Regions from separate parts of the Homo sapiens genome. Here region 2 is linked to region 1. Evidence: fine-mapped expression QTL. Tissue or cell type: whole blood. Region 1 holds a variant in brackets; the other region holds the start of a gene. All regions are shown on one strand. Distances are from middle to middle.

What was found. PIP is the estimated chance that this variant, and not a neighbour inherited with it, causes the effect.
Region 2: it holds the start of PKDCC, and the variant in region 1 is fine-mapped to the expression of PKDCC in whole blood (TOPMed, PIP above 0.99).

What each region holds. Positions count from the first base shown.
Region 1 is chr2:41,892,885-41,901,076 of GRCh38, reverse strand. It overlaps LINC01913 (long intergenic non-protein coding RNA 1913), which reads right to left. Exons shown (of 3, transcript NR_033996.1): 3 at 7,031-8,192. Among named protein-coding and RNA genes, the nearest start is that of LINC01913, 19 kb to the right of the region's middle. RefSeq lists a silencer at 4,304-4,353 and an enhancer at 4,484-4,533. The variant A/T (reference allele first, on the strand shown) is at 4,275.
Region 2 is chr2:42,044,738-42,052,905 of GRCh38, reverse strand. PKDCC (protein kinase domain containing, cytoplasmic) reads right to left here and starts at 4,885. Exons shown (of 7, transcript NM_138370.3): 1 at 4,068-4,885. The coding sequence starts at 4,706. RefSeq lists enhancers at 1-111, 2,782-3,283, 3,997-4,256, 5,757-5,876, 5,500-6,004 and 1 more and silencers at 4,297-4,366, 4,497-4,596, 4,607-4,786, 4,937-5,186, 5,297-5,586.

The DNA of each region.
Region 1 (8,192 bases):
CTATAAATGAATTTTTTGGATAAACACTCTCATATGGTAAGACAGTCTTCTCTTTCTATTCTAGATTTTCTGTTTTCATCATTGAGCAACTGAGCATGTGTTATTTTTCAATGAGAATTTTTTTCCTAGAAAATAACATACATGTAGAGTGTACACCAGAGGTTGTAAACTCAGATTCTTACAGAATTCAGAATGGCAACAAAAATGAGTAAAGTGGACTGGGTTTAAGAAAAATCAACAGCCAGAAATGTAATCAAACTTTCATTTTTACTTGACTAGGGCATAAGTACATAATATAATATAAACGTGTGATATTGGGGATTATATATTAAGTTTGAAATTGAAAAATGTAACATTAAAAAAAGAAATATGTAATTATTAATTTTTTTCTTTCATACCTCATTACTTCTTTGCTTTACAACCAGAAATGTGACACTTTTTCTTTTACCCCAACATGTCAATGTTGAGTCTTGCATTTCATGTTGTGATGTGCTGTATAGAATTCAACCTTGAATCTTTTAACTGAGAGCAATCGTTTTATTTAGTTTCATAATGGAAAACAGCTGTTCATGGCTGAGCATTGATAGAATATTTGTATGATGGTTTTTATATTTAGGGTAACCACTCCTGAGATATTTGTAGAATTCTGGCATTCCAATGTTGCAAAATTTAGTTTTAGGGAATGAATTGTGGTTCAAAAAATTCCATTTATATTACAATACTGAGAAAGGTGAGTTCAAAAAATTGCATTTGTGGCACAATATTGAGAAAGATCATTTTCATAAAACTAGCAACTTTTTTGGAATCTCATCCTGTCTTCAGCTCCAGAATTTTTAGAGAGCAGTTGAAGAGACCTCTTTCATTTTGGAAAACTGATTTCAGCATAGGAAAATAAGCCAGATGATTCTTTGCCAAATGAGTTTCCCTAAGATATAATTTCACTAAGAATGAGAAAACTGAATAGCCATTTGCATATTTGTGATAATTCTTAAAGAGATACCCAAAAGGGTTAAATGGCTTGTGATATTTACTGAAAAGGCATATACTTTGATCCAATCTTTGCTGGTGAGCTGGGGTATTTTTGTTGGATGATATGAACAAGTTAATAACTTTTCAGCTGTTCCTCCCCTCCCACCCATGAAAGACCCCGACATTACACACTAACTACCCTTTATTTATTAGAACAGACGAGTGTTATGACTACTGCATATCCACTTTATCAGGCAAAGCACTGAACTCTTTATGCTTTTAGCCATGGGAGTAAGTCCCATTCACTAGGCCCATGATATGTGTTCTATTTTAACTTTTTAGCACAAGGCAATTCCTGGTGAATTATTTAGTTTCCCTAATTGTGCAAAATTGGCCACCTTAGATTTAAGATTCATAACAAGGTCAGTGTTAATGCTGATCATTTCAGGAGCTCTGTTTTGTAGCCAGGCTTACTAATTTTGACCTGTCTGCTTTAAGTTTTTCAAGGCTTCTCAACACACAAAGCTAAGTAATTTCCTGAAATTGTGCCTGTGATGGACACCATGACCAAAAGTTCTCCAATCACATTGAAGTCTCTTTGGAACCATAAATAAATATAGCTGACTGGGTGGTATTATTTTAACTGGGCTCTCATAAGCTTCACTAGGAAATGCCACAAATGATTTAACTTTTTCACACAACCTGTCCTGTAAGTTCTCAGCCATGTCGTCATCTTGTTGAGCAACCAGCGTTTCTGTTTAGTCTTCCATTTGCAAATACTTGTTTTTGTTCAAGGTATGAATTTCTCTATCCTCAGTAGATTCTCTTTTGTAAACTCACCATTAATAAAAGGTTTCAATGCATGAGCAATATTTTCTCCTTCTCCATAACTTCATTTCACAGTTGTGTCATTTGTTTTATTTGCTTTGAAAAATAAAACATGTTAAAACATCAGTACTTTCTTTTAGATCGTTAAGTTTCCCTACCAGCCTCACAGCTTTTTTGTTTGAATTCTTTTGATACTGACACATTTCATTTGCATGTCAAACTTGGAAGAATGATTTTAACTTCTCCAAAAATAAAAAGCTATTTTCCGTTTTTTTTTTTTTTTTTTTTTTTGCAAACATGCAAACACATAGCTCTCGTTGATGCTCTTTTGTGTCTGTCCTTTTGCTTGAGTTATGGATATGTATGTATGAATGTCCATATAAAAGTTACTTTCTTCCCAACTCTGTTATAAGAAAATCATAGTCTAGGACGATGATGAGTGACTACTGACCCTCGGCCTCAGTGATAGGAAGAGAATGGGGAGTAGTGAGGGGTATGGTGGTATGGAAAACTACTCAGCTCCAGAGGACTTATTCCTTGCTGGAATGTGATTTCATTATAGACCTTCTAAATTCTTAAAACTTAAAGAAGGTGTAATATACAAATAGAAAAGTGGATCTATTTTAAGTATATGGCTTGATAAATTTTCCATGAATAGATCATAGATTGAGGAACAGAACAGCATCAGGACCCATAAGGCCCCTCACACTCCTTTCCAATTGAGACCTTTCAGTTTTTTTAAGAAAAAAGTATTTGGATTCATATGTGAACTCTCAATTTCTAACTTTTGTCAAGTAATTGAAAACATTAAAAAAATCCCTTGGGCCAAACAAAACACATCTCTGGCCAGAGTCAGCTCAGAAGACTACAGCCTGAAACCTCTGGTTTCCATGCTTTTCTTACTGTCTGGCAGCTCACACCTCTCTTCTCCTCCATCTAGAGGGGTAGGCAACCATGTTTCTATGTCATGATACCAGCCATGGTTGACCGGGGTCTTTCTCTGGGACTCTGGAAATGGGACACTGGAATTCTCTTTATCCTGGTGATGGTGCCAAAAGTGGCTCCAGGCCTAGAGCAGGCCCTATTCCACCATCCATTGAGGAGCAGAGAAAGCTGATGCCCACAGCGAGAAGGAAGCAGAAGTGCAGAGTGAGAGAGTGGGAGAAACTGCTTGGTTCCCCAATGTTTTTCCAGTTTTTGAGTTCTTGGTTCTAGCCCCTCCTGAGGCCAGTATAGATAAGGGCTGAGGAGCCAATTAGGCTGGTAGGCTTCTTCAAGAATTCCAGAGGAACAGTCAGGTGGGTGGATCAGAGTAAATGATGCTGGTGACAGCCAAGGACTGGCAGCCAAGTGGGCGGGGTCTCCATGTGAGACACTTCTTCACTCAGAGTCACATCCTAGGCCAGTGGGCTGGGATCAGGGGTAGAAGGCCCAGCAGGCAAGTAAAAGATGTATATTCCCTCAGGTGAGCTTGTAACTGAGTTCTAGATTAAGAAATGTTGGAGACTGAATGATTATTTCCAATTCTCCACTCCCTCCCTGCAATAGAATTATATACCCATGCCCTTTGCCATATGGCTTTACATGCACCCTACTAGAGGAGGTAGAGCCTATATTCCCATGCTGTCAGCTGTGGGCTTGGCCAGTTACCTTGCTTTGGCTAATGGAAATATGGATGGACGTGACAACGAGACAGTTCTGAATTGAGGCCTTAAGAGTCATGGGAGGCTTCCACTAGCCCCTTTGTGTGCTGCTTCCATATGTAATGAGAAGAGCCTATCCCAGGTAGCTGCTGGTTCCAGGAGAGAGATATGGAACTGATCTGTACCCAACTCACCACCTGAATCACAGCCCTTCTACCCAACCCACAGATTGTGAGTGAGGAAAATAAATGTTTGTTTTTGTAAGCCACTAAGATTATGGGATGGTTTATTACATAGTATTATCACAGCAATGTCTGACTTATACAGAGAAGAACTGGGTCCTAGGCAAAATTAGGGACAGAAGAGCCTGATTGTATCACAATGGGCCCAGGAGAGGGGAGAGGAGAGCTCAGGCTCAGAGGCAACGTGGTGCAGGAATGTGGGTTCTTAGAGGTCATCCCTGAGGGCACCAGATCCATGTATGATTGGAAAAGGGAAATGAGAGTGGTCTGGGGGAAATACCTGTCACCTCATTGATCATCTGGCTTGAAGGAAAATCAGGAGGAACACAGGAGCCAAGTAGTTGTAACTGAGCTGGTGACATTATTCCAAGCCGTTGTATCTGCTCAAACTTTACATACTCTCCAGCTTGGTTAGCATTGACTCAGGAGCTGTGAGCATCGGTGGATCTAGTTGTGAGGATCCTGGGAGGGTAGCAGCAGGAAAAATAAGGTAAAAGAGGGCACCAGCACCACAGCTCTCAAATGCTCACAAGTGTGAGTGCCTGTGTGTGGTTATCTGACAGCTCTTTTATAAATCTGATGGTTGCTTTCT[A/T]CCCACCTGCTTGCTGTTTTTGTTGACATCTCAACCTGGAGTGGGTTTGAGGCTGGGAGGCTGAAACATACTCTGACCACATTCACCCACTTTCTGAGAACTTGCAGGCTCAGATGAAGCCTGTGAAACCACAGACCTATATAGGACAACTAGATGAACACGGCACAGTGGGGTGGCCAGTGATATATGTTGCCACAGCAGAGGATCCTGGGCAGTCGTAGCACAGACAGGGTGTTTCTGATTTTCCTTCTTGAAATTCCTCTTCCCAGGGGCTTCCAAGCTCAGGAAGCTCTTGTCATCTCCTAATCGAGGCAGATGAAGATGGGAGTTCTGTAGGGAGGCGTTTCCACTTAATCAAGGCCAGTCATACCCAAGCTCTAGGATTAGACAGATCTGCAGATCTGCGCAGTTACTTGGGCAGCCTGTTTTCTGTCTCTGCTACCTTGTTATCTGGCTCTTCTCTGAATTCCTGTAGCTTTTCCAGGACTTAAACAATGAGATTAACAGCTATCATTTTTTGAATGCCTACCATATGCTAGGCTCTCTAGTGGATCTTTTACAAGTATTATTGATAATAACAGCAAAGATAACTAATATTTACTAAGCATTTGCTAGGTGCCAGGCACTATGCCAAGCCCTATACTTGTATTAACTCACCGAGAATCCTCACAACGAGGCAACATGGGTGTCATTATTTTTATACACAAATAATAAACGGTGGAGCTCACTCCACCATTTGGATCTAGATCGGTCTGACTCCAGAGCTTTTGTTTTTTCACTGGTGATGCTCTCTTGCTTGATCTTGCTCTCTAGCCATGCCAGGACACTGTGCAGTTGGGCACGATAGGCTGGGGCAGATGCAGAGGGCTGGGATATGGAGTTAGATCAGGAGGATGAATGCAGGATGGTAGAAGTCCAGTGAGTCGTTCATGAAGGAGACAGGGATAAGGTTCAACAAGAAGTATGGTGAGGCCCTAAAAGGCAAGAGGAGCAGAGGTACAGACAACCCAGAAGCCATCAGATGTCCTGGCAGGCAGTCCAGGGGCAGGACAGCAGATCCTGGAGGAGACAGAGCTGGCCACAGCACAACTCATAGTTCTGGCTCTGCCCTTTACTAACTTTTGGGCAAATGACTTACCTGCCCTGAATTTCAGTTTCTTCATTTGTAAAATGGGCATAAAGAAACCTCCTTCATAGGGTTGAAATAGCTGAATGAGATAGCAAACATAAAGCACCAGTGACAGTGCCTAGTCCTGAGGATGTGCTCCACACATAGACTGCTACGTTTCTAAGACAGGCTCAGGCACAGAGACAGGGAGAACCCAGGCTATCATAACTGAGAGTCAAATAAAGTGCCCCAGGAGCAGCATTCTAACTAACCTGCTGACTGGGATTAGTATTGGTTTTAGAGACTGGAATGGGGTTAAGTGACCTCATTTCCATATAGAGGGTGGCTGAACTGAGTGGACAAGCAGGTACTGGTTTTTTCATAGATGGGTGTTGAAATCCCAGCCCCACACAGCTGACAGGCTCTTGTTCAGGACTTTGGACTTCCAGTCTGATGTCCTTTCGATGATACTGTGCTGGTGGTAAATAAACACTTGACATAAAATATGTTCAGGCATGTCAATGGCACATGCATTGTAATGGTTTTGAAACATGTCTGCAAATTCCTTGATGTTCCTCCCACTGAGAGGTGGCATTGAATTCCTCTCCCCTTGAACATGGACCAGCCTCAGTGACTTGCTTCAAAGGAAGAGAATGTGGCGAAAGTGATGCTGTGTGTCTGCTACGGCTGTTTAGAGAAGCTTCTGCCTGGCTCTGTCTCCCGGGATGCTTGCCTTTGAAACCAGTTGTTATGTTAGGAGAAAGCTCAGGCTACATAGAGAGTCCACATGAAATTTTGGACCAGCAGCCCCACCTAAGGTCCCAGCTAACAGCCAGCATCAATTGTCAGATCATCCTTGAAGTTGTCCCAGCTGATACCAAGTGGAGCAGGGATGAGCTGTTCTCAACAAGCCCTGCCTAAATTGCTGATTCATGAGCAAAATAAAAGTTGTTGTTTTCAGCCAATAAGTTGTGGATGGTTTATTTTGTAGCAATAAGTAAATGGATCATGAACTTGCATAGTAGAGCACAGAGGAGAAGCAGCAGGATCCAGTTCTAAGAGCTTGTGTTCCAGAGTCACGCAGTTGATTATGCATTTTCAGCTCTGCTATATGCTTGCTGGGAAAGTTATATACCCTCTCGAGACTGTTTTGTCCTCTGTAAAATGGTAAGATGGTAAGATTGATTGTATGGGTGTTGTATTAGTTTGCTAAGGCTGCCATAACAAGATACTATGGACTGGATGGCTTAAACAACAGAAATTAATTTTCTCATAGTTCTGGAGGCCGGAAGTCCAGTATCAAGGTACCGGTAGGTTTGGTTTCTTCCGAGGCCCCTCTCCTTGGCTTGCGGATGGCTGCCTTCTCGCTATGTCCTTGCCTCCCAGCATGTGCCTAACAATGTTCACATTTCCTCTTCTGTAAGGTCACCAATCCTATTGGATTAGGGCCCACCCTAATTATGATTCACTTTAACTTAATTACCTGTTTTAAGGATGTGTCTCCAAACACAGTCATTCAGAGGTACTGGGGGTTAGGACTTCAACGTACGAGTCTTGTTGAGTGGTGGGGAGTGGGTAGATACAATTCAGCCCATGACAATCGTTACCAGGATTAAATGAGGTAAAACAAACATAAAGAACAGGTTACTCGTGGACACATTGGAAGTGTTTAATAAATAATGGCCATTATTATTACATATGTGATGTCAACCTGATTAATTATACCTGATACATGCAAAAAAGGGGAACACCACTATGTATGCCCCAGGGGAAGCTGTGTATTCCTCTCACTTGGATGATAAGAGAAGACAAGCTCTCTACTAAGCACACTATGTCCCTCCACCTCCTAACCTGGGCCCCTGGCTTAGTGATGGTGGCAAGAGAGGGGTTGAGGAGTCCCCTCTGGAGGAAGGAAGCAGCATTATTTCTTGACCCTCAGAGACAGCTGCTTCCTTTGGGGACCCTTGGAAGGGGCTCCTTGTTTAAGCCTGGAAGATCCCAGGGTGATATCAGGTAAGGAAAGACCTGGGACAGTGTACAAACCCGAAGTCACTCTGTCTGCAATTGCCTGGGTGCTCCAGAACTGACCCTTGGAGTCATCCCCACTGGAGGCAATTTGGAGAAGGTATTTTCGAGAGAAAGTCCCCACGCAGAAAACCTTTCTGCCAAGTCCTTTGTTTTCCTAATGTTGCCGCAGTGTCTGGAGCTGAATTTTAAAAATGGCATTTTCCTGGAAAGGATTTTTTGGTCTTTTTTGGAAATGTCTCATGTAAAACAAGATCACCAGTGGGCCATTGAGTCTGGTCTCCCCGGGATGAGCTTGGGAAATGGCAAGTGGGGGAGGGCGAGTCTGGGTGGGAAAAAGAACAAAAAACAGAGTTGGAGGGAAAGCGGGACGTGACAAAGGGGTCAGCATTCATGTGTTAGGAATAGGCTCAGAGCTCAGGATTCATTCCAGTGGGTAAGGCATCGTGCCGGGGAGGGAGGAAGGGGAAGGGGCCCTTGACAGCAGGGCTGTGGGAATGTCCTCTGAAAGCCTCCATTCACCACAGAAATGGACCTATCCCTGGGCCTGCCACCTCCTTCACTCCCTTGTGTGACATGGGTAAGAAGGCAAGAATGATACAACAGGGGCCGTGTCTCTTCCATCAGACTGGATTTCCTTCCTGAAGGGAGGAACTATAGGTGGCATTCATTCTACGGCTCTAAGAGGGTTGCCTTGTATCTTCCCATCAGACTGGAGGGTCCCCAAGTACAGGGACCCTGTCCCTCCTTGACCTAAGGAATCAGTAGAGCTGAGAACCTCCTTC
Region 2 (8,168 bases), 150 kb before region 1:
TATTATTATCTCCAACTTCAGGTGAGGAGGCTGACTCAGAGAGGTTAAGTTGCTTGCATAAGGTCGCACAGCTGATCAATGTAGGAGCCTAAGATGTGAATTTGTGCCACTCGGATTCCACAACCTATTTTTATTTATTTTTCTTTTCTTTTCTTTTTTTTTTTTTGAGACAGCCTCGCTCTGTTGCCCAGGCTGGAGTGCAGTGGCATGATCTCAGCTCACTCTGCTTCCTGGGTGCGGGCGATTCTCCTGCCTCAGCCTCCCGAGTAGCTGGGATTACAGGCGCTTGCCACTATGCCCAGCTAATTTTTGTCTTTTTAGTAGAAACAGGGTTTCACCATGTTGGCCAGGCTGGTCTCAAACTGCCGACCTCAAGTGATCTGCCTACCTTGGCCTCCCAAAATGTTGGGATTACAGGCGTGAGCCACTGCGCCCGGCCACAATCTGTTTTTTCTAAGAATGCTGTTTGGTAATACACAAGCGAGCATACGGTTGGACATTATCCTTCCTCCCCTCCTTGAATCTGTATCTATCCCTCATCATTTCTACCTTCTGGCAGCTTCAATTTTCTCTGCGTGGGTCTTGAGGGAGGAAAAGCAAGTTCCCTTAGACTGGTAACAAGTGTTGATAAGAACAAGGTACCTGAGGGCACATCCCCAGGTGTGTTTTGCATATGAGTGATGTGTATCAGTGGGGGTGGTAGTGAGTGATGATTCCTCCTGGAAGATCAGTTCTTTTGGGGTTACGGTCACAGGGAACTGCCCACTCTATGTCATCTGGGGAGAAGCTCCGCACTGCCCAGGGACTTCTGGGAAGCAAAGCCTGAGTGTCACTACCACCTTAACAGCACCCACAGGCATCCCCCTGGCTCTTCCAACATACTCCACAGCAGCTAGGGGCTCGTATGGTGCTCAAAACAACCAGCACCCTGTGGGGTAGAAACACGAAGGCTGAGTTGTCCAGGCCCGACTCAGGGAGAGGAGAGCTATGCGGTGGAGGGGTGGATATCCCTGTGCACTGTCACCCTCATACCATCATTCACACCCTCCCCAGAGCCACTCCAGGTCCTCACATGTCCTCTTCCCGCCCTAGGAGTGCCCCCTCAGCTCCCCGTCATCCTGCTGGCATGGGGGAAGGCCTCACTCTTGGGCTGTGACTTGGGGGGCCAGGGCAGCTCCAGGCACCCTCTTCTCTCTCCACCCCCTCCCCATCAGTCCAGGGAAGCCCCAGACCCTGGTGGGGTGGGGGGAAGGTAAGGGGAACAGCCCTGGGGCCTGGTTCTCATTTTCTTGCCCAGAGTCTGAGCCTTTGTGGGAAACTTCTGAAGGTTATTAAACACCCGGAGGTCGTTAAATGCGCTGTTAACGAGGTATTAATCAACACCCCTCAGGAAAAAATAAAAAGACACCATTAACCCCCCCCAGGAAGCGTGAGGCTGAGCATTTCAGTCACATCTTTTGTTTGGTTGGGAGAAGAAATATACTCTAGCAGGGCCAGAATCTGGGCCCAGGCAGGCCTGGGGGCCCATCCAAGGCCTGGGGGCCCCAGGATGACTGGGGGAGGGGGAGGTGGGGAGAGGTTGAGGGGAGGGGAGACCCTTGTGCCCTTTGGCCCTGGGCTATAGAGGAGTCAAGTCACGTGAGGGAGTGTGTATGCGTGTGTCAGGGGCGGGATGGGGAGGGGTCAAAGAAAATGGATAGAAAGATCTCGCCCAGGCAATCCCCATGACCAGAGAAAGCCCTGGGAGGTGCAGAATGGGGCCTGCTAGCCTGGGCATTTTCTATTAGAATCCACAGCACCAATTCTGGGCTGCTCAGAGAGGGAGGGTGGTGAGCCTGCACCACTAGGAACTCTAGAAATGTTCTCTAACTCCTCCCCAGTTCAGCAAACAGTCAAATGGTTTTGAAATTTTAAATAACTCAGAGGTATTAAAGCAGCATTATTTCTAGTTCCCTGTACACCTGCCCTGAAGCCTCCTGGGCAGGAAGACCCCACTGTAGGCTTCCCTGCCAGCAAAGATGGCCGTGTTTAGGAGGCCAGAGCGACACTGGCCTGATGGTCAGAAGATGAATGGGGGAGAGCCACCATCAAAGCAGTCCCTAAACTCACACTAAAGGGCCCCCCACTTTTCACTTTTCCTGGGTAGAAAGGACCTGTGACCCTCTCTCCCTTAGCAACCCTTGTGCCCTGGGGCCACTAACTCTCGTCTGGGACTCTACAATAAAGAGTCACACAGCTAACCCCAGACAACCCTGGTCTTGGTTTGGTGAGGGAAGGGTGAAAACTATTCTGTTGTAATTTTTTCTTTGGTGCCTTCAGAATTGGGCTGGGGGCCTGACATTTCAGAGGAGGACCGTCACGTGATATATATGTGGGGCGTTAGCTGAATGCTTGTCAGGAAGTTTGAGCTGGCGGGAAGAGTGAGGGACAAGTTTCTTAAAAGATAGGAAAGCACATCAAACATCAAACCCGTCTGAAGGGAGAGGGGTCTTGAGTCAAGTAACTAAGACTTTATGTCCTGCTAAGTCACTCAAGACCTCTCCACTCCCTCAGGATCTGGCTGACACCCTAGAGTTTCCAAAAAGTTCCCAAAAGTCCCTGGGAAGGAAAGAGTACAAGATCCTCCCAGTTAGAATGGCCACGTAACCAGGGGCTCACTCCCTGAAGCTGCAGACACGGTGTGAGCTGTGCAGCCAGGCTTCACTACACGCAAGTGTTGGTTCTGCCCGAGCTCCTGAGACCAGTTTGGGGCCCAGGGCCCGGTCACAAGTGTCTGACCAGGGTTGGGGAATACGATGGGGGAGGGGGAGACTGGGAGCCAACAGGAGTATAAACAACTTTTGGGCCAGTCTCTCCTGCTCTACGACGCCCACCCATCTCCCTCCAGGGCTGGGGTGCCATCTCACTCCTAAGGAAAGGAGAGAGGGACTCCTGGGTTTCCAGTCATTTCTGCTGGGTGCAGAAAGGTTAGTTTGAGTGGGCTGGTAGGTGGAAGGTGTGTGCAAGATTTCATCCGTTGGGGAGGCTGCACACACCCATGTTCACCGGGCCAACAGCGGTCAGGGATTCCCCTCTGTTTGCTCAGACATGTGCAAAGGGAATAGTCTGTCTAATCTTAGGATGGGGGGAGACCTGAGAGAGAGGACGTGGAGTGTTAGGGCGGTGCTGGGACTGTGAGAGGCCCACTCAAAGTCTAGCTTGGAGGGGACAAGGTGGGGGTTTCAGCTCTCGCCTGTGTCTCCAGTGAACAGGCGAGGCAGAGTCCCGTTGAGTAGGAACCTGAGCATTTGGCCTTCTCAACCTTCCAGCCTCTTGGCTATCTATATACACTCAGACAGTGTGACATTTAGATCCTCAGGCCGCCAGTCTGTCCACTGAGCTGAGACCTTCAGGCTTCTCCAGGGGCTCAAGGACCCACTTTAAGGCCTGGGGAACCCTTAGTTCACTTCTGGGAAGGACTGTGTTCCCTTTTTCTAGCCTGCTCCCCAGCCCCCTTCCAGTGTCTTCTGGGTGGCGCTGGAGGTGGGTGGGTGGGGAGACTCTATAGGAATCAAGCCTGACACATGGTCTCTTTCCAGCTCTTCCCAGCCCCACTGCTGTCCCGTCTCATTTTCAAAACCAGACAAATCACTGGAAGTTGGGAGAAGTTCCATCAAGAAGGGGGACTTTATCACACAGTTGGAATTCTGACTCAAGTGTCTTGGCTTAGGGTCATTTTGGCTTGGGGTAATATCCCTGGTGTTCAACCTCCTAACTCCAGCCCGGAGTAGAGTCCTAAATCCTAATGGACTGCCCCACCCCCTGAGTTTTGGGAGCCTCTGTCCTGGCCTGTCTTTAAGAGATGTGTGGAAGCCGAGAAACCCAGGAGTTCTCCGGTAAAGGGACGCCCACCCAGGAGTGAGAAGCAGGGTGGTGCAGTGGGAAGGGCCATGGTCCGGTTTCTGCGTCTAGCTTAGCCTGGGTGCAGTCACTGGCACTCCAGATCAAGGGGTTCTCTTCCAGCCAGGTTGACAAGGTCTTGGGCACTCCCAGCCAACACCGTTACCCCCGCGTCCCCACCCTCGTACCTGCAGCACGTTGGGGTGCCGCAGCCGCTCCAGCAGCACCATCTCCTTAAGCAGCTTGTGGGCCGCCAGCCGATAGCAGCCCCTCCGTACCCCGAACTCGCGCACGCAGCTGCCCAGATCGTGGCCGCTAAAGTCCACCGCCTTGAGCGCCACCGCGGCACCGCCGGGCAGGCGGACCCGGTACACGGCCTTGGTGTAGCCTGAGCCCATGTACTGCGCGCCGGACACGTTGCGAAGCGCGGCGCAGCCCAGGCGCGGGCCCGGGCCGGGGGAGCCTGGGCCGGGAGCCGGGGGCCAGCCTGGGGCGCCGTCGGACAGGGGCCGGGCCCAAGGGGGCCGGGGGCGCGGCAGGCCGGGCCCGCCCGGAGCCAGGTCCATCAGGCGCCGCCGCTCCGGCCGGCCCGCCCCGGGCCCGGGGCCCCCGCGGGAATAGCGCTGCACCTCCTCGTAGCGCGCCCGGATCTGCCGGGCCAGCTCCCCGCGGCCCCCGCGACGGCCCGGACCCGGGGCCGGCGAAGGCTCAGGGGACTGGCCTGGCCTCGGAGGCTCCGAGCCCGGAGCGAAGAGCACGTTGAGGACGGAGCCCAGCAGGAAGGAGGCGCAGAAACCCGCGGCCACTGCCGCCCGCCGGCGCCGCATCGCTCCCCTCCCCCCGGCCGGCCGGCCCCGCGCGGCTCCCCGGCCCCGGCCCCGGGCGGCTCAGGCTCCGAGGCGGCTCCGCTCTGCGCCCCGCCGGCCCCCTGCCCAGCCCGCGCGCATGGCCCCGGCGGCCCCGACCCCGGCCCCTCGCGGGCGACACATCGGCCTGACACTTGCCTCCCTGCCGCCCTGCCCCCGCCGCTTATAAGGCCCAGAGCCGCCCCCCGCCCCCGCCCCCGCCCCCTCCCCCGCCCCCTCCCCCGCCCCTCCGCCTCCACCTCCCAGCTCCCGGCCCGAGCCCGTCCTCGGCGCCGCCCCCTCCGGCCGCCCGGCCCGGCCTTCCCCGCTGACTGACAGCGGGACCTCCTCCCGCGGCCGTCCGGGCCTGGGAAGCGGCGCGGAGGCGGCTCCGGTCCTGCCCAGCCCGCGGTCCCGCCCAGCCCGCGGTCCCCCGAGCTCCGTCTGGGAGCGGGGGAGGGGGCGGCGGCGGCCAGGAGGCGCGCGGGGGCTCCGCGCCCAACGCGAGGGCGGATAACGGGGCCGGGGCGGCCGGATAACGGGATTGGGAGGTGGATAACGGAGCCGGCCGGGCGGAGTGGGGGAAAGATAAAGGGGCGAGGCCGGCGGGTAGCGGGCTCCGGAGGGGACGAGCAGCTAAGTCCGGGGTGCGGAGATCCGAGTGATCTCAGCGCTCCCTCCTGGGACTGGGGGCCTCGGGGCGGTTTGGGCGCAGGGAAGGCGCGTGGACCCCGTCTCTCGCGGGTGGGGCCGGGGGTGGCGGCTCCTCGCTCAGCCCCGGATTCCGGATTGGGGCGATGGTGAGGGGGAAGCGGGCACAGCCGGGCCAGCACCTGCGAGCGCGCGTGGGACAGGAGCTCTAGGCATAGAGGAATGCTCGTGAGCTCGCCGAGGATGCCCTGTTCAACTCCTTTTACCAAAGTGTTTCTGATTTTCCTTGCCTCTAAAGCCCCAAATGCAGCTGGGGGTCGCTCCCTACCCCTCAAGATGCCTGGGGTCTGACGGGGTCAGCCGCGTATAAGAAACCATGTGCATGCTAGTAGCTTGGGCAAAGAGTGCGTTTGTGCCCACGGACGGCTGTCTGTGGAGTGTGTGCCTCGGCGTGTCTGAAGGGGCCATTGTGTCCGATGAAGGGAATGTGTACCTTGTGTGTAAGTTGGTGCTGACGCCACCAGAACTTCGGTCCCTCCTCCTCCCTCCCTGATTGCATCATTAGTGCTAATTGAGGGGCTTTCACACGCCAGTGCACTAGCTGTTTGGAGTGAGCTCCCCCCTCCTGGGAGAGATAAGCCGCTGCCCCTCCCCCTCGCAGCTCTCCTCTTCCCCGCCACTCTGAAACTGCCCACCTAGATCCTCTCACCTTCCTGGGCAGCTTCCTGCCTCCCTCTGGGCCAGGTTAATCTCTGTCCTCCTCACAGTGTCAGGGATTGGCTGGGGAGGGGTCAGGGAGGAGAAGGGTCCACAGCCTTTTTTCTGGGGGTGGGGGTGGGTGGGGGGGTATCCAGGGAGGGGAGATTTTCCCTGAAGAGGTCTGGCGTTCCTACAGAATGCAGTGTCTGTGATGAGAAAGGGACAGGAATTTCTGCCCTGTTCCTTTGGACATGGAAGGACCGAGGAGAGAGCTGAGTCCCTGATCTCCAGCCTATGATCCCACTGAGGTGGGCCTTCCAGCCCGGACTCCTTGTTCTCTATGGCTTGGGGAGTTGGGGCCCAGTCCGACTTGGCAAGCATGGAAAGGCAGGGTGAAGGAAGCCATGATTCCTCCGAGAACACTGGGTCTGGTGGAGTCAGGTCTGTACCGATAGAGCTGTTCTGCCCCACTCTGGGCCGTGGCTGCAGTCTGCAGGGTGTAGGGGGAAGGCTCTGAGCAGATGCCCTCTCCGCAGCCTTGCACCAGATGTCTTTGGTCTAATTAACTGTGCTGGGAAAACCAACCTGGGTTTGTAAACAGAGCTACTGGCTAAAGTCAACAGGGAACAGCAGCAAACAGCAAACCATTCCCCTCACACTCAGCCTTGGTCCAATTCAGACCCCTGGGGAAAACGGGGAGCTGGGTGGATTAGGAGGCCCCCCCCGGCCCACAGCTGAATCAGGAAAAGCCTGTCTGCCTGTGTCACCCCAATATGGCTGCTAGTTCCTTATCAGTTCCATGTCTTCTTTTCTGGGGAGGAATGAGGATTTTGGGAGGAACAGTTGCCATCCCAAGATAGGCTCTGTCCTCCTTCCAGCAATTTCCCCATAGACATCTACCCAGCCAAACGTCTCAATCCGTGAGGGAGCTGTTGTGGGGGAATATTCCCTGAAGAACTTTCTTTGGGGCTTGCTCTGCCCTTGTGTTTTGGAGAAACTTCTGAGGGTAAAACTTGGCGTTGTGAGTCTACAGCTCAGAGTAGGTGAATATAACATGAACATTGTTAAGTTTGTTACACATCATGTAGGTATTATAATAACATGTTCTGAAATTAGATAATTATTCCTGTGATATCTTTGCCAAGCTTCAGTGTTTCTGTTATGGTTTGAAAGTTCAAGGCACACAGGGGCCTGAGAAACAGGCACAAATGTGCGTGCAACACACACAGGTCCACGGAGCAGTTCAGAGCAGTAGCTCACACACAGGAACAAAGGCATCTCAGTGGCCTCCCTCGCATACTCACTGTCTCCCTCACCAGCTCTCAGACACAGACATATACAATCTGAGATGGAAATGGGTTTTTGGCTTCTGAAAGAAAGGGATTGAACTTTTTGAGCAGATTAGAGTTTCTGAATTGGCAGTTCTTGAGTTCTTAACTATATTTTGCTTGTTTGCTTTTTTTTTTTTTTTTCCTTTCTGCCACCCAGGGAGAGGAATCATTTCAAAGAATTGAAATACATGAAATGCTGCTGCAGGCCCCTGATCTGCAGTCTGCCCACCCACTCAAAGACCAGGTGGAGCCCATAGCCTGGGCCTCACAGGCCAGAGTCTGCAGGCCAGTGTCCAGCTCAGAGCCCTCAGTGCCATCTTCATACAGGAGCCATCAGCTGGCAGTCCTCCCTGTCTCCCCCAGGGCTTCTGGCAGCCCTCAGACCACAGTGTCTGTGCAAGGTCTGGAAGGCTCAGTACGTCCAATGCTCTATGCTTTCTTGCTCCCTCTATCTTTCTGCCATGCTCCTACCCCACTCAAAACACTTACTTGGATATTAATCCTTGGGAAGAGGGCAGATGGCCCAGACTCCAAAATGCTAAATTTTCTTTAAGGTGTCTTTTAAATACCTTCTTTCTGCATGTTTCTGTCACATCATCCTAGACTGTCTGAAGGGTTATTCTAGCCTCCCATCTGCCTTCTTTATTGTCCATCTTTTTCTCTGCAGGCCAAGGCTCAGACACCTCTTTTGGAGTATTACTGTCCTACTCAAAAACCTGGAGGATAAGCTGAACTGGCCTTCAGGCCTCCATGAGCTGGCCCC